Regions from separate parts of the Homo sapiens genome. Here region 2 is linked to region 1. The links come from fine-mapping of genetic effects on gene expression. A gene starts in region 1. The other region holds a variant in brackets. All regions are shown on one strand. Distances are from middle to middle.

Evidence for each region. PIP is the estimated chance that this variant, and not a neighbour inherited with it, causes the effect.
Region 2: its variant is the best candidate, but not a certain one, in a credible set for the expression of PVALB in lung (TOPMed, PIP 0.56).

The regions. Positions count from the first base shown.
Region 1 is chr22:36,812,117-36,821,102 of GRCh38, reverse strand. PVALB (parvalbumin) reads left to right here and starts at 4,068. Exons shown (of 4, transcript NM_001315532.2): 1 at 4,068-4,158; 2 at 5,868-6,000; 3 at 7,348-7,457. The coding sequence starts at 4,098.
Region 2 is chr22:36,833,571-36,842,556 of GRCh38, reverse strand. No RefSeq gene overlaps it. Among named protein-coding and RNA genes, the nearest start is that of PVALB, 21 kb to the right of the region's middle. The variant G/A (reference allele first, on the strand shown) is at 3,906.

The sequences.
Region 1 (8,986 bases):
GGTTCTCCTGCATCCCGGCTCCCTGAGCTCAGCCATGCCCACGACTTGACGAGATCAACTCCTTGACTTCTCTGATGACAAAGCCCCCAGGGTCCAGCCCTGACCTCACTCCAGAGTTCAGACACATCTCCGCCAGGGTGTCCTTCAGGTCCCCTAAACCCAGCATCAGCTCTTGGCTCTTCCACTACTCTCTGGGGGATTTGGGTAAGTCACCCTGGCCTTGGTTTCTTCATCTATAACATGATGTCATTTGTAGAAGTTTGTAGCCGATCACCACGGAGGCTGTCCCAGCCCTAACATCCTAGGATTCAACACCACTTACTCTATCATCCCTTCGACTGAGCACTACCTCCTCCCTACACTCCCTGCCTTCAAAGTCAACACCTTCCTTCTTCAGCAAACCCCACCTTGAATATTTAGGGTCAGCTTGGATTTGTCCCTCTTGTTCATGCCACAGCCCCAATTCTGGAAGCTTCTCTCCAAGAGGTGCTCCCCTATCTGCACACTCCTTCCTGTTGCCACCACCAGCAACCTAGCTCAGGCCCCAGCACCACACCTCAAGGAGGCCCCAGTCCCAGCTTCCCCCATGCAGCCTGCCCTCGGCCCTTTCTATCCATGGAGCTTCCAAACAGCCTTTGCATGGAGCCTGGGATTCCTCGTGTCACTGTGAAGAACTAGACCCCACCATTGACAATCTTCGTGCCCTGGAGATTCTTTTCAGGTTAGGGATGAGGAGAGGAACATTTCATGGTGGTCAGATTAGATATTCACTACGTATTTATTGAATTCATTTGGTCATTCATGCTTCTCAAAACACATCCCTCAGCTGGTCCTCTCCAATCCAAAACAGACAATGTCAGAGATCTCTTTGCAAATCATGAAGGGCTTGGGCCTTTGTGCCTCAATGTCACACGCATACAATTTCAGGGGGTCCATCTTCCCCTCGCCCTAGACCATCTATAGGGCACAGTTTACCTCTGATTGAGCTCATGTTACAGGTGGAAAGACTGAGAAAGAGAGAGGAAGGGACTTGTCTGAGAATATGCGGAACATTTCCTTCTACCAGGCACTAGATCCTCGCACAAAAGTGCTGAGTCCGCTCCCAACCCCAGGCCCGTGGCTTTGAGCAGCAGGTCACTTAACATCTAACGTCTTTATGCTGTTTCCTCATCTGTGCGAGAGCAGCTATGTCTACCTGGCAAGGCTGTAGTGAGAGATCATATCAGCATAGGAATGGGGCTCAGCCCCATGCACAGAGGACAGTTCTTGTTTCATTCTTTTCCTTGCTGTTTCTCTTCCTTTCCTGGCAGAATATGGAGGAAGGAAGCATCGCTGCCATCTACAGTGGTCACGGAAGGCTTCATGGAAGAGGCGAGCCCTGCCTGGGCCTCAATTTTGGGTGCTGGAGGGAAGCAGGGGCCAAGAGTTATTAATAGTCTTGGCCTGATGGGCCCAGGGAGGCTGAATGTGATACAGACACCCAGCACCACGGTTGGGGAGTACCTGACACCGGAAGGGGAGGGGGCCGGGGCTACGGGGAGTGCCACCTCCCAAAATAGCCAGAGCAGAAGCCTATATAGGTGGCCATCCCACCTCCAGGCTCACTTCCCGACAGGACTTCCCACCAGCCCAGCCTTTCAGTGCAGGCTCCAGCCCTCCACCCCCACCCGAGGTGAGTGGCAGCTACCGAGGTTGGAGGATAGAGGGATGCAGCAGGATGAGCCAGCTGGAAGGGAGAGCTACATCTCCCCTGTCCGTAGTGACCCGGGGAGGGGGGTGCGGTGGGGGTGCTGGAGGCAGGGCAGCTGTGGAATGTAGGGCTGAGAGCATGCATTCCTGCTTCTCCACCCAGACTCCTGGTGTGGCCTGGGGCAAACTCCCCCCACCCACCGCCCCCCGTGGCTGGGCCTCAGATTCCCCAGCCTTAGAACGAGAGGGCTGGAGTCAGACATCTGTGGACTCTGGTGATGCCATCAGAGAGGACCCAGAGGGCAGAGGAGGACTACCCAGGGCTGATGGGCTGACCTAATGACATTGATGCTCTGGCTGGGAGGGCTCAGTCCCGGAGGGGGTGTCAAGTTGATAGGAGAACTCAGCAGCAGGGAGAGATGGAGGAAGGAGATGGAAGAAGAGTGGGCCCCTGTTGAGGCTGCAGCCTTTGCCACAGGGTAGCTGCTTAGGGGCTCACCAGGAGCCAGTGTGTGGCTGAGATGTATGGGACCTGATAGAGCTGGGTCCCAGGCACCAGGGAGGATCACCCAGAGAGTCACTGAACTCCACACGAGTGAGTCCAGGGGTGTACCCTGCTCTGCTATTGCTTTACCATGTGTCCTTAGACCATTCACGGACTCTGTGCCTCCGTTTCTCCACTGGTATAGCTGAAGCGTCCTTCAGCTGGGGAAATCCATTCTCCAACTAGGCTCCTGGAGTGAGCTGAGCCTGGGAGTTGAAATGATAGCATAGGAGCCTGGCATATCTGAGTCAGCAGCCCAGCTGGGGACAAGGTGCAGAGGTGACGGCAGTAGCAGCAGGGTCCAGGGCAGCTGAGGGGTCCTGGGAAGTCCTGGAGCTGAGAGGCATCAGGTCAGGAGCTGCATCCTTGGTGCCTTGGAAGCCATCTGGCGGGCTGTGGCTTGAAGGAGCTGACTCACAGGGAGGGGGCAGCTGGAGCCAGCAGAGGTATCCTAAGGTTTCCAGGAAGGGCAGCCATCCAGGGCTGAGCTGCAGGAGACAATGTTGACAGCGATGTCAGGGAACTTGAGTTACTGGGCAGCTGGACAGCTGCTCTCCCTGGTCCCCACCACCCAGGGCCACCACAGCCCAAGGCCCTGCCTACCTGCCAATACCTTAAGTTGCAGTCCCCAGGTCCCACTACATGGGACCACTGACGTCATCAACACATCAGAAGGAGACAGAAGCCCAGAGAAGGTCACAACCCAAGGTCACACTGGGACTTAGTGCAGCCCAGGATCTAGAACCCAGGCCTCCTGACTCCCTGTCCAGCGCTCACACACTCTAGAAGCAGCTGGTTGCAGCTTGAAACCTTGGGAACCATGGGGAAGAACACAACGGGTCTCTGGCTGCATACAGATAGGCACCGTGACATTTTTCCAGAGGTGAAGTTCAGACCCCTACACCTGCTTAGGTTGTCTAGAAAGTGTGGTCTGAAGGTGCTACCCTTCTTCCAAACACATATGGGGCTTTCTGGGAGGGAGCATAGCAATTCCAAGCGGACTCTCCCACCCTACTCTGCCCAAAAAAGGTTTATAGGAGTAGGGGGAGTCTGGACCCATGATGCCAGGACCCAGGAGACCAGGAAAGCAAGTAGTTAGTAGAGATCTGAGAAGTGTTCTTCGAAAAATCAAGCCAGCAAAAAAATAAAAAATAAAAGTAAAACATCAAATCAGGTTTTAGAATATGCATCCCTGGCCAGATGTGGGATGGGGCACCCGAAGTGGGCCCCAGCAGCTCCTGCCTGTCCCTGTCCCTGTCCCTGCCACCTCCTCCCTGCGTCGGGTGGGTCAGGTTTCAGGACCTCAGCGCTCAGATTTTGCAGCATAAATTTGCATCCAGGACAGACCAGAGCAGAGGCTGAGGTAGGAGTGGAGAGAGAAAGGGAGCAGGGCCTAGGAGGTCCTGAGGTGCAGGCTGGCCGCTGAAGGTTCAGGATCTTCCCCCACGCGGCAGGACATCCGCCAAGGTTCCCAGATCTGAGACGGCGCACCTCCTGCGTGTCCTTGACGGCAGGTGGACTTTCCAGACCCAGCTGGTGACGCCAGTGCCCCCTAAATCCCAGAGGTGGCCCCTTCCCTCGTGCCCTGGCCGCAGCCCCTGGGATCCCGCGGACCCCTGGCCTGGCGGTGCAGGAGTGGTAGCAGGTCCGCGCGCCTTCTTGCCGGCGGCCGGCGCTGCTCAGCGGCGCGGCTGGACTGAGCCGCTCCCGCTGCGCTCAGAGTCCGGGCCCCTGGCGCCATGCCAGGCCCGGCGGGCGTGCGCCCGGCGCGCAGCACTGCAGCGCTGGTCATATGAGCAGAAATGATGAGAAAAGCACTTTTTAATCTTTTCGCACTTGCTCTGCCCGCTCAAACAGTTGCAGGATGTCGATGACAGACTTGCTGAACGCTGAGGACATCAAGAAGGCGGTGGGAGCCTTTAGCGGTGAGCAAGCGCGCTCCCCTCCCCATCCCTCTCCCCTCGTCCACCGCCCGCGCCCCTGCACTCCGCCGGCCCCGCAGCCGGCGGATCCTCCCCAGCGCGCTTCTGCCCACACTTCCCGCTGGGCGCCGGCGAGGTCGGGGCGGGGGCGTCCTTGGCAGTTCCCAAACTCTGTCCGGGCGAGGCTTGGCGCGGGGAGCGGGCGGGGAAGAGGGCGCCCCGCCTAAGTTACAGAAACTTGAGGGTGCTGAAGGCCCGGTGGCTGGGAGGACTCAGGGTCCGGGACCAAGGGCGAAGACCAGGGTCGGAGGAGAGACCTCCAGGGTCCTTGTACGAGCTCTCTGGACGTCCTCTTTAAGGCACTTAGAGGGGACTGCAGGGGGCATCCTCCTCTCCAAGAGACCCCTTTCCTGGACCCTCATTCTGGACAGGACTTTTCCCGCCAGGCGGTAGCCTTTGTTGGCCCCCTGACTGTCCTAGTTCCTTTACTGAGATTCAGCAACGGACCTGCGGGCGAGGTGACCTTCTGGAGCCGGCGCACAGCTCTGCCTAAGCCCGCACGGGGCATCCTCAGTGCCTCAAACCTCCAGCCTCCTTAGGCGGGCAGGGGAGGGGAACTGGCAGTCTCACCTCTCCCAGCTGCCCGGGACTTCAGCGCTAAGCTGCCCGCCTTCCTCCTCCCCTGTCCTCCAGATGGGGAAATCAGGGAACTGTCTTGGAGAGGACAAGACATTTGCCCAAGGTCACCTAGCTGGGCAGAAGGGGTATTAGAACTGGGTTGCCCAGCCTAGTGTCGGAGGTGGACAGGGCAACTTTCCTTGTCTCTAGCCCTGTGCTGAGGGGAAGAGAACATGACTTCAACAGCCATTCCCTACACACACACACACACACACACACACACAAAATACATGATCTAACATTGTACCCTTCCCCAGGTGTTCTAAAACAGGACCCCAAGATACAGAAAATTGCAGGTAGAAAAGGACCCCCATTTCCTTTCTGCTTTGCACCCCCTCCCCTGGGCACAAGAACCTCTCTGGGAAGCCACCCTCCCAGGGTCCTGGGATAACCCTCTCCCTTCACCTCAAGCCCATGTGGGAAGAAACTTAACTGGGTGTTTCTCGGGAGCCTCCTAACACCCCCTTCCCACTGCCTCCGAAGTGGATTTCTGCGCAGAGCCAGGACTTCCGGGTTTGCCCCTCCTCCTCCCACTGTATGACCTTGAGGGAAACCTGTCCTTTCTATGTCAATTTTCTGGCAACAAAGTCTGTGGCCAAGAAAGAAGGTCAACCCTCCTCCCCCTAACCCCAGGACCATGTTCATGCCCCCTTCAATTCCCCAGCCCACTCCCAACCAGCTGGCACTCAAAAGTCTTCCTGGGCACAAGGTTCTCAGAAGAACAAAAGCCTTTGGTTCTTAGGTGCTGCTCCCATCATCAGCAATGGGTGCAGTGGAGGTGGGGCGTGGGGGCGGGCTTGAGAGCCAGGGAGGTCTGGGTTTGAGCACACCTCTTCCACTCCCAGCCTTGTGACCTTGGACAGGTTATCCTCCCTTGCCCGGGCTCCCTCAGCCCTCCAATGGAGGTGGGTACCTCTCATTCCCCATGACTGGCATGTGGGAATCCATCAACAAATGCCTTGATGCCCCCCATTCTCCCAGGCTTCCCTACCAGCCTTTCTGGTCCTTGTTTGACCCTGCTCTTCCCCCCACAGCTACCGACTCCTTCGACCACAAAAAGTTCTTCCAAATGGTCGGCCTGAAGAAAAAGAGTGCGGATGATGTGAAGAAGGTGTTTCACATGCTGGACAAGGACAAAAGTGGCTTCATCGAGGAGGATGAGCTGGGGTAAGCGGAGGCCTGCAGGGGCTGCCCAGCCCACGGCTGCACGAGAGGGAGTGGGGGCTGGGACTCTAGCTTCCAAGTGTCCATCAGACCTGCCTTTCACTCTGCCTGCTTCACAGAAAGTAACCGTGCGTGAAGGCAGGGCTCCGACCCAGGGCACCAGGGGAGAAGGCTTCCTGGTGCTATTGCTTCGGAAGAGTAAAACCCTCAGCTGAAAGTGCAACTAACTAGGTTAAATGATAGCCACTTAATATTGCTAATGGAATGTTGCTACTTAATAATTTAATGCAAATGAAGAGGCAGTTTTCTTGCTGCCTAACACCATAGGCAGGGCAGAAAGCATTCACTTGAGTATTTCATTGATTTTCATTTGTCTAAAAGACACTTTCCACCTTCCTGCAGCCCCCAGCCCTCTGGTACTAGTGTGGCTGGTGCAATTTCTAGGCAAGCCAGGGATGCAGAACCACCTCTGAGAGTCCAGGGGTCCTTGGAGAAAAGCAGAGAAGGAGAAGGCTGTGGCTAGGAAAATGCATGCCTCCATCTGCAAAAGCATCTCCCACCATAATTCCCTCAGCCACCCGGCCATGTCTACTGACTCAGGTTGCCTTATGTCACTTTCTGGCCAAGAAAGCCTTGAGTTTTGTCAAAAAGAGAAGCGGGGGGTGGGTGTAGGGAGAGGCCTTTCAAGTAGGGACTTCCCCACCCATCCTGTCTCTCCCCTAAACCATCTCACAAGGGTACCTTCTGTCTAGAATCTTCACGTTCTACCCACTTACATCCAACATGCATGCACACTTATGCACACACACACACACACACACACACACACACACACACTCACAGAGGCTGACTTCCCCCTGTCCTCCAGGTATCACCTTCACCAGGAAGCCTCCCCTCTCCTCCCCTCACCGCAGGTGGGCAGATACAGCTTCTGAGTGCCCTCCTCCACGGCCCATCACACTGTGTGGTCTCTCTCGGAGCCCGTGACCTCCTTATTTTTTCCAGTGCCTTCCGAAGATCACCACTGTGACCCCACTTTCCAGCATACGCCAGACACAGAAATGACACTTAGTGAATACTTGTTGGATAAATTAACGAATGTAGGTGCCCTCCCTGAAGTGAGGACAACCCTTCACTGAGGACAGCCTGTCCTTTCCTAAATACTCACCCACGAAAGCACAGCCACCGAGCAGGCTACCTGGCCCAGAGCATCCGTGTGCGTGACTGCTGCTCGCTGCCTGTCCCAGCCATCCCTTTCCCCATACAGAAACCAGACCACCCTCCATCCAGCGTCCTGCAAGGCGACCTCGGCCTGACTCCCTCACCGGCTTTCTCCCTTTTCTCCTCCAGATTCATCCTAAAAGGCTTCTCCCCAGATGCCAGAGACCTGTCTGCTAAAGAAACCAAGATGCTGATGGCTGCTGGAGACAAAGATGGGGACGGCAAAATTGGGGTTGACGGTGGGTAGCCGTGACCTGGGGTCTGGGCATATTGTGGATCTTGGGGTGTTGGATGCGAAAAGTTTGAAGCTATGTCTGTCACAAGGAAGGGATGATATGGGGGTCCCTCACTCCCCCAGATTAGAAGACAAAAAGCAGTCCATTAGGTCTGAGAGCTCTGCCACATACTCCAGACAAAGGAAAACTGGTGTATTTTCCTAATTTGAAAACCTAAAAGGAATAGATTCTGTTTTTCCTGCTGGGTAGGGGATCCAGGAGGATTTGGGATTTTTTTTTCCTGAACTCTGCCTGCATTTTTGCATGGATACTGGCCCAACCTCTGCCCAAACTGGCTGTGTGACCTTGGGCAGTGTCTCTCGATCGCTGGGCCTCTGTCTCCCATCTCTAATCCAACGAAATGAGGCCGACTAATCCCCAAGGATCCTCTGCCTCTCACATCCTCAGATTCCAGGGATGGAAATTCCTATCTCCTGTCCTCCTCAGCATCTTGTCCTGGTGTCCTGTAACCCCAAGTCTCAAAACCTGTTTGGGTTTTACTCAAATATACTATTCTAGCCTTGCAGCAGAGCCAGGAAAAACAGTAAACCAGAAATCAGTGGGGAATTCAGACAGGGAATACCTGGCCCTGCCTTGCTTTGCAGGCTTCAATGTCAGCACAGGTGAGAGACCAGTGGCCCACCGTCCACTCCTTTCTCCATTTGGCTCTGTGTGGCATTCATGGAGCACACCCACATTGCTATCTCTCTTAGCTTATGATTTTCTCCGGAATTATCTCCATTTTGCAGGTGGGCAAATGGACTTTGAAGGTGCTTAGCCTAGTTGAAAGAGCTAGGACATAGCGGTGGAGTGGGGATTTAGAACCAGGCCTGAATGAGTGTTTGCAACATACTAAGCTGCCATTTGTTCCCATAATAGGCTTTTCTGCTGGTCTCAGAGAAAACTGTGTGTAGGTGTTTGGCCTCTGGGCCCCAGGCTATCTGGGTTCAAATCCCAGCCCTACCACTTTCGAGCTGTGTGACCTTGCGTAATTTGATAACTACTCTGAGCCTCTGTTTTCTCATCTCTGAACTGAATAGAATGATAATTCTTACAGGGTGATTACAAGGGTTAGATGTGTTAATATGTAAAGTGCCTAGAACAGTGTCTGGCACAGAGTAAATGTTATATATGTATTTGTTAGCTAATTTTTTTAAAACTAGGTCCCTTCGCAAGGGTACCTTCTGTCTAGAATCTTCACGTTCTACCCACTTACATCCAACATATAAGTGGATGTAAAACTTAAAACTAGGGATTGGGTTGCATTCATCCTTCTAGCCCCAGTATCTAGCCAATACCCCACACAGAGCAGGTGCTTCATAAACATCCGCTGCCTGAGTGTAAAGCCCAGACCCCCATGCTCTGCTCCTTCTCTGCCCCTTGCCAGCTGTGACCTTGAACACGTCACCTCTGCACACCTACGTTCCCTTGCCCGGCAAATGGGGTGCATCAGCTTCTCCTAAGACCTATTTGGGCTTGTTGTGAAAATTAAG
Region 2 (8,986 bases), 21 kb before region 1:
AGAATGGTAAATGCGCACTGGCTTCAACTTAAAGTCACCAGCTGCATTAGCCCGTAACAATAGAGTCACCCTGTCCTTTGAAGCTTTGAAAACAGGCATTGCCTTCACCTGTCTAGCTATGAAAGTCCTAGATGGTATCTTCTTCCAACAGAGGGCTGTTTCATCCACATGGAAAATATCTTACTTAGTGTGGCCACCTTCATCAATGACCTTAGCCAGATCTTCTGGATAACTTGCTGCAGCTTCTCCATCAGCACCTGCTGCTTCACCTTGCACTTTTATGTTATGGAGACAGCTTCTTTCCTTAAACCTCATGCATTAACCTCTGCTACCTTCAAGCTTCTTTCTGAAGCTTGCTCACCTCTCTCAGCCTTCACAGAATTGAAGACAAGTAGGGCCTTGCTCTGGATCAGGCTCTGGCTTAAGGGAATGTTGTGGCTGGTTTGACTTTCTATCAAGACCACTCAAACTTTCTCCATATCATCAATAAGGTTGTTTCACTTTCTTATCATTCGTGCGCTCACTGGAGTAGAACTTTTAATTTCCTTCAAGAACTTTTCCTTTGCATTCACAACTGATCTAACTGTCTGGTGCCCATCTTTTGGCCTATCTCAGCTTTTGGCATACCTTTCTCACTAAGTTGAACCATTTCTAGCTTTTGATTTAAAGTAAGAGACAGGACTTTTCATTTCATTTAAACACTTAGAGGCCATTGTAGGCTTATTAACTGGCATAATTTTAATACCTTTGTGTCTCAGGGAATAGAGAGAGAGAGAGGGAATGGCCATTCCATGGAGCAGTGAGAACACACACAACATGTATCGATTAAGTTTGCCATCTTACATAGTCATGGCTCATGGAGCCCCAAAGCAATTACAATAGTAACATCAATGATCACTGATCACAGACCACCATAACAGATATCATAATAATGAAAAAGCTGAAAATATTGCAAGAATTACTAAAATGTGGCACGGAGACATGAAGTGAGCACACGTTCTTGGAAAAATGGCACCGATAGACTTCCTGGGTGCAAGGTTGCCACAAAACTTCAATTTGTGAAAAATCCAATATCTGCAAAGTGCAACAAAGCAGAACCCAATCAAAGGAGGTGTGCTTGTATTTTGAAATGAACATTCATTTGGGAGACTATTCATACATTTATTCATATAATAAAGTCATATAATACATTAAAAATAAAAGAATATTTGGAGGCTTACCTCCTAGTGGTGGAATTGCTGGAACAAAGGGCATGTGCAGCTTTTTCTTTTGTTTTTTTTTTTTTAGATGGAGTCTTGCTCTTTCACCTAGGCTGGACTGTGGGTGCAGTGGTGTTAGCTCACTGCAACCTCGGCCTCCCAGGTTCAAGCAATTCTCCTGCCTCAGCCTCCCAAGTAGCTGGGATTACAGGCACCTGCTACTATGCCCGGCTAATTTTTGAATTTTTAGTACAGATGGGGTTTCGCCATGTTGGCCAGGCTGGTCTTGAACTCCTGACCTCAAGGGATCCACCCACCTTGGCCTCCCAAAGTGCTCGGATTACAGGCGTGAGCCACCATGCCCAGCCACATGTGCATTTTTAATTTGGATGGAAATCTCAAAATTTCCCTCCTAAAATAGAAATTTACATTTTCTTAATTCATTGCCATCACTGAATACAACTGTACTTAAACATTTTTGACCATCTGATAAGTTAAAAAAGTCTCTGATTTTGGTTTGTATTTCTCTGATGGCAGAGGAGGCTGAGTATATTTTCATACATTTATTGGCCTTTTGTATTTTGCATTTGTATTATTGGCCTCCTGTCTGTGCCTTAGGACCCTCCTTTCTATTGGACTGTTCATCTTTTTCTTATTGATTATGAGCTATTTGTAAATCAACAGCATTGGTCTTTTTTCTAGCACTTGTCTGAAAGTATTATTTGGCCATTTTGTTGTTTGCTTTGAACTTGGTCCATGGCATTTTTTTTTAACTCTCACACAAGTTTTAATTTGCTACAGTAATGTTTGTCAATCTATTTGTTTATGGTTTCTGGGCAGACTCATGTCTTCAGAGCTGTCCCTATCCTTGCCAGCAGGTTGAAGGAATTTCCTGGGTGGCTAGGTGACATGGCAGCCACTGGATGTGTCCCCAGGCTCGCCCTCCGCCACCTCCATGTGGAGATGCCGCCCCTCAGAAGATTCAGCAAACACAGCCCCTTGGCCTGCTCCAAGAAGGTGGCTGCCCCGCCTTTCACAGCCAAATTCAGGATGCACCTGGCTTTCGTTTTCCCCTGACATCCAGCTCCTTTTAAGGAGCTATGCATCTTATACGTTTCTTAATCCCCCAACTAAATTTACCAGCTGTTGCTCACAGCCAAGACATCAGCTAAATTAAACTTTGGAGTGGCAAACACGGTGTATCAGATGCACTTCAGTGAGCCATGGTGGGAGCAGCCACGCCCCATCTGTCCTGAGGGCTGGGGGTCATGCTCTCCCTTCCCTCCTGGAATCTGGCCACAGCAGCATCTTCCTTCCCTCAGAAGCACTAGGGTCCCGCCACTGGAGGACCATGGGTGTATTGAGTTACTTCCACCATTGAAAAGATTCTTCCTTTCATTCTACAGGTATTTACTGAGGGCTCAATTATTGACAGGCACTGTTGTGGCAGTGGGGAAACACCTGAGGTTTTCTTTCTCGTGACAGAGAGAAATGAGGAACAAATGAATGTATAATCCACAGTTGAGCAGCAAGAGAGCCTCGGAGCAAGGGAAGCAGATAGAGAGAGAAGTGAGGGTAGGGCTGGGTGTCTCTTCGGACATGGTGGCCGGGGAAGGCCTCTGATGAGGTGACATTTGTGTAGAGACTGGAATGAGGTCCTAGACACAGCCATGTAGGTATCTGGGGGAGAAGGTTCCAAGGCATGTTCTAGAACCAGCAGGGCAACTAGCAGTGAAGGAGGAAGGGCTGGGTGGGAGGAGAGGTGGAGCGAGTTGTGGGAAGATGCTAGCATTCTCCTCCATGTGCTATGGGAAGTGAGTCAAGGTTTGAGAATTGGGAGAAGGGTGAGGTGTTTTCCATCTGAAGTGTGTTTGGTTTGCATTTACCCTCTATGACAGCTTAGGCACAGGAAAGGTCAGACGTGGATTGATGGTGAAAAAGAACTGATGGGCCGGGCGCAGTGGCTCATGCCTGTAATCCTAGCACTTTGAGAGGCCGAGGCAGGCGGATCCCCTGAGGTCAGGAGTTTGAGACCAGCCTGGCCAACGTGATGAAACCCCGTCTCTACCAAAAAAAAAAAAAAAAAGAAAGAAAAAAAATAGCAGGGCATGGTGGTGCATGCCTGTAGTCCCAGCTACTCAGGAGGCTGAGGCAGGAGAATAGCTTGAACCTGGGAGGCGGAGGTTGCAATGAGCCGAGATAGCACCACTGCACTCCAGCCTGTGATGGTGAGAATTCAGGCACCCCAGAGCAGCTCCTGGGGATCCTTTGAGTGAGCAGAGTGGGTATGCCCTATGCTGCTCCTGTCACATATTGGGTTTGTGGGTGAAACTCTCCCTGCTCTGGACACACTCACAAAGCAGGAAGGTCTACCTGGCTGGAACCTGCATCCCTGTTCTCTGGAGGGAGGAAGCCCTTCCCTCACACCTGGACACTCAGGCCCAGCAGGCTCTCTGCTTGGGTCCAGCTGTGACCCTGTGTCCTGCTGCAAGGCCCCAGCTGCTCAGCCTGGCCTCTGAGGACCTGCCGGATTGGCAGGGACTGGCCGTCCTGGGCAGACACCGCAGACTGGGGCTGGCCCTCAGTGCTGAAGGCTCCTGAGTTGAACTGGCCAGCACACCGAGGCTGGCCAAAAGTGCAGCCCAGCACCAGCTTGCGAGGAGGCTCCCAGGAGAAACAATTAGAAAGCATCACAAAACACCTGGC[G/A]GACAACAGGGGCTGGAGAAATGCCAGCTCCTGCTCCAGTCACACACAGGCTCAGGCAGCATAACAGCCGTGAGACACACACGCCACCCAGGTGGTGTTGAAGACAGGCAGGGACCACCTAGGTGGTGTTGAAGACAGGCAGGGACCACCCAGGTGGTGTTGAAGACAGGCAGGGACCAGCCCAGGAGGAGCCTGACCAGTTGCTAACTTGACAACCTTACTCACACACACACACACAGACACACACACACCACACACACACAGACACACACATACACACACACCACCCCCCCACACACACATCACACACACACATACACATACATACACCACACACACACACATACACAGACACACACACACACACTGCCCCCACACACTGCCCACACGCACATACAAACACACAGACATACACCACCCACACACACACACACACACACCACCCCCCCCCCCCACACACACACACCACACACACACAGAGTCGGCTCCATATGAATAGGCTCTGATATGGTTTGGCTGTGTCCCCATCCAAATCTCATCTTGAATTGCAGCTCCCATCATTCCCATGTGTTGTGTGAGAGACCAGTGAGAGATAATTGAATCATGGGGTCGCATCTTTCCCCTGCTATTCTCATGATAGTGAATAAGTCTCACGAGATCTGATGGTTTTGTAAAGGGGAGTTTCCCTGCACAAGTCCTCTTCTCTTGTCTGCCTCCATATGAGATGTGCCTTTCACCTTCTGACATGATTCTGAGGGCTCCCAGCCATGTGGAACTGTGAGTCCAATAAACCTCTTTCTTTTGTAAATTGTCCAGTCTCAGGTATGTCTTTATCAGCAGTGTGAAAATGGACTAATACAGGCCCCATCACTCATTTCTGCAGAGTAAGGGCCCTGAGGCCCAAATATCACTCCCAGGATTCCATTGTTAAGCCCCAATTCCACCATTAAATTCCACTTGGATCACAGATGCTGCACATACACAACCATGGCCAAGCCTCTCAATTTTATGTTTATTGAACATGCAGAACAGCAGACATCACTAAAAAGGCGTCTCAGTCATGCCCAGTGTTCCAGTAAATTGGAGGTAGAAATTATGCCAATCAGAAAAAATACTGCCTTTTTGGCAATCACCAAATCACTAAAGCTTTATGTGTGTAGTCGTACTATTGGAGCATCTGCAGATGTCACACATGTAAATGCAACATGGTGGTCAATTAGAAAATCAACTCAATGTTTCTTTTAACAGATTCCTTAAGCTTCCTACATAAATCTCACTCCAAATTAACATTAGCTTTCCAAAGAGAAAAGAGCATTCTGTGACCATTTCCACTGCAATTTAATTCTTTTTTAGTTCTCAGAATGATGGCAAGGCCATCAGGAGTGAGGATGATGGCTCAGCATTTTTGGGGCCTCCTGAATATATCAAAGGGAGAAGCTAGAGGTTAAAACAGCCCTCAAAAGAGGAGCCTGTCATGTCAAAGGAATGTGCAGGAAGGCTGAGCAGAATTAATTTCCTCCTGGTATAAAATATTCCTTCTGATCATAAATAAATCTGCTCAGAAGTAACTCCAGCAAACCACGAAACTGTTTCGAGGGGGCTAAGTGGCAAATCACAGCTTTGATGGTGACAAAAGAGAAAGAAAGTGAGATCACTAGATTCAACTTTGTCCTTTCCTTGCATTCTTCAAAAGCAAAATCCCCAGCCTCCCTCCTCATCTCCCCCCACCCAAGAACTGCACATTTCTCATGGCCTAATATGAACAAAACGGTTTATGACCAGATGAGCAGACAGCCAGATAACTCTAAGGAAGAAAGAGGGCAGAAAGGCTAAGATGAAGACACAGGGTGGAGAAACTCTGCCTGGCTCCAGCTGCCTCTCTCACGTCCACCATCCTGCATCTGGCAACAGGAGTTCCCCAGTTGTCACGGGGGATGCTCCAGCTGAAAGGGTCCAGGAGCTATAGGACAATAGGACGTTACAGGCCTCTTCTTCCCACCTTGGAGAGAAGGCTCAATGAAAGAATCTTGTTTGCCTTTTATTTTTCCATTGTGTATTTCTTTTTTTTTTTTTTTTTTTTTGAGACAGAGTCTCGCCCGGTCACCCAGGCTAGAGTGCAGTGGCACAATCTCGGCTCACTGCAACCTCCACCTCCTGGGTACAAGCGATTCTCCTGCCTCAGCCTCCCGAGTAGCTGGGATTACAGGCTCATGCCACCATGCCCAGCTAATTTTTGTATTTTTAGTACAGATGGGGTTTCACCATGTTGACCAGGCTGGTCTTGAACTCCTGACCTCAGATAATCTGCCCACTTCAGCGTCCCAAAGGGCTGGGATTACAGGGGTGATCCACAGTGCATTTCTTGAATGTATTTGGCCATGGAATGCTCTATTCATCAAACATCTGTAACGGTCTGTTATAATGCAATTATTTCCATCTCAGTTTTAGCTGAGGGTCTATGATAAGAGCTGCCACCTGTTCTCACATTCCAAAGTGAGATTCCAGTCCCTGAAACTTGCGTGATTGTTTGTTACTGCAGCACAACTGAGTCCATGCGGACTGATACAGATGAGCACCAGACACGAGCCTTGCCCATCAGACACTGTTGCCTGCATATTTCAAACGGGACATTTTTTTCTTAAAGGGCCAGATAGCAAACAGGTTTTGTGGGCCATGGCTCATTTGGCCACAGACTATAGTTTGCTAAGCCCTGTTCTAGACCCCTCATGCTGGACTTGCAAAGGAGAAGGTAAAAAACCAGTTTCATGGCTCTTGGCTTTTCATGCATTGGAAGGTATAAAAGGGTTAAAATTGCAGAGGTAGAGAAGTCGAAGTATGCAGGTTGTTCTTTAGAGAGAGCTCTTGGGGTACTATGATCCCCAACCCTAAAGAGAAACTGTTAGGTGTAGTTCAATGGTCTATTACCATGGAAAACCCACCCTAAACATCAATCTTCAATGGTAGATTATCTGTAAGGACTCTTCAGGTTGGTAGCCGGATAGTCGCTTTGCTGCTGCTGGTGCCATCTGGGGTCACTCATATGACTGCACTCAGCTAGGATTTTGGCTGCCACTGGAAGCTCAAGGTGGTGACACGTCCCCCTTTCCCACCACAGGTTCCCCTCACACCAGGCTCCAGCTAGGCCAGGGGCAAAGCTTTACCTCTGAACAGAGTTTGGGGTTTTGATTATTAAACAAGACTGGACATGCTAGTTATCTAACTGACAGATATGTGTGGCCACCAGCACGGAAAGCTTTTTATTACCTGAGTAAAAAGATTTCCTCCAGGACTAGGGAAAGGACTAGACCTACAACATCAGAGCCAGGGCAGGGGGAGGTACATTACTTTCTGGTTATCCCCATTCAGTTGATGTGACACTTATCACATTTCCCAAGCAATGTCTCTGGAATAGAAATAGGTACATATTTAAGTAACCATATGGAAATAGGTACATATTTAAGTACGCATGTGTACCTACTTCCATTCCAGAGACATTGCTGGGAAAAGACGCTCAGGGAAAATTAGGATGTGCTGGAGCCTCTAACACCAGCAGACGCTGGTTCTCATGGTGGTGTGTGAGCTCTCATTTCTTGCTCCATCTATGAGACTCTACTCCCACACCCTGTGGACAAGGTACAAGTCCACATACCTGTACGACGATATGGTGGCTCATTGCACAGGATTTGAGGTCAAAAAAATCAATGTTCTGGCCAGGCTTGATTGCTGGCGCCTGTAATCCCAGCACTTTGGGAGGATCGCTTGAGCTCGAGTTCAAGACCAGCCTAGGCAACATAGCAAGACCCCATTTCTACAAATAAAATAAAATAAAATAAAATAAAATAAAAACCTAGGTTTACATCCTAACGATTTTCCAATTATTATCCATGGGATCTGTAATAATTCATGTTTCCTCTGAACTTTAGTTTTCTTATCCATAAACTGGGGATAATGATGTCTCCCTTACAGGGTTGTTAGGAGAATGAAATGAGATAATCATGCAAAGCATTCAGCTGGTGTGGAGGAAATCCTTGTCACCATGTCAGTGTCTAATGCTATAAATGGGGAGAACCGCATCTGTTTGGAATTGCTGTATACACACATATTCTGCTCAGGAAAGCCATCAGCAGAAGCTGCTAACATTGGCTGCCTTTGGGGAGGGAAGCGCGTGGCTGAGAAGAGGCAAGAGGAAGACTTTTCACTGTTTAACTCTTGTACCTTTTGAATTTTGAAGCATATAAATGTATTAATTATTCTAAACATAAACTTAAACTTAAAATCTTTCTAATATTTTATTATGAAAGTTTTCAAACCTACAGAAAAGTTGAAAGAATTTTAAAATGAGCACCATGTACCCACTGCTGTGGATTGGCCATGACCATTCTACTATACTAGTTTTATCTCATATCTATTAAATTTTTAAAATAAAATGAGCCTATCTCTGAGGTCTAGGGAAGTTTCTTTACTTATTAGGGTCTGTATGTTCCCTCTGTGAAATGCGAAATGTGGGGTATTATCCCTGTTACTTACCACACCCAGGGTAAATCTGAGTGGGCTGTTGGCTGTCTTGCCTATATGTCATGAGCATCCCTTGGGGTGGCTTCCTGGCTTAAAACAGTCCTCTCTCTCTCTCTCTCTTTTTTGAGACTGGGTCTCACTCTGTCACCCAGGCTGGAGTACAGTGGTGTGATCTCAGCTCACTGCAACCTCCACCTCCCAGGTTCAAGTGATCCTCCTGCCTCAGCCTCCCGTGTAGCTGTGATTACAGGCACACACCACCACACCCGGCTAATTTTCTTATTTTTAGTAGAGACGTGGTTTCACCATGTTGGCCAGGCTGGTCTTGAACTCCTGACCTCAGATGATCCACCCGCCTCGGCCTCCCAAAATGGTGGGATTACAGGTGTGAGCCACCGTGCCTGGCCCAGTTCTCTCTCCTTGAAAACAACCCCACCACACGTGTGAACTCCAAGTGGCTACAGGTGCACCACAGCCTCGTCCCCCTCCAACTTCACCCCTGGCAGTAACCCAGGGATGGTGGAGTGGATACCCTGCCACTTACTGCTATTTCTGATTCTTCTCCC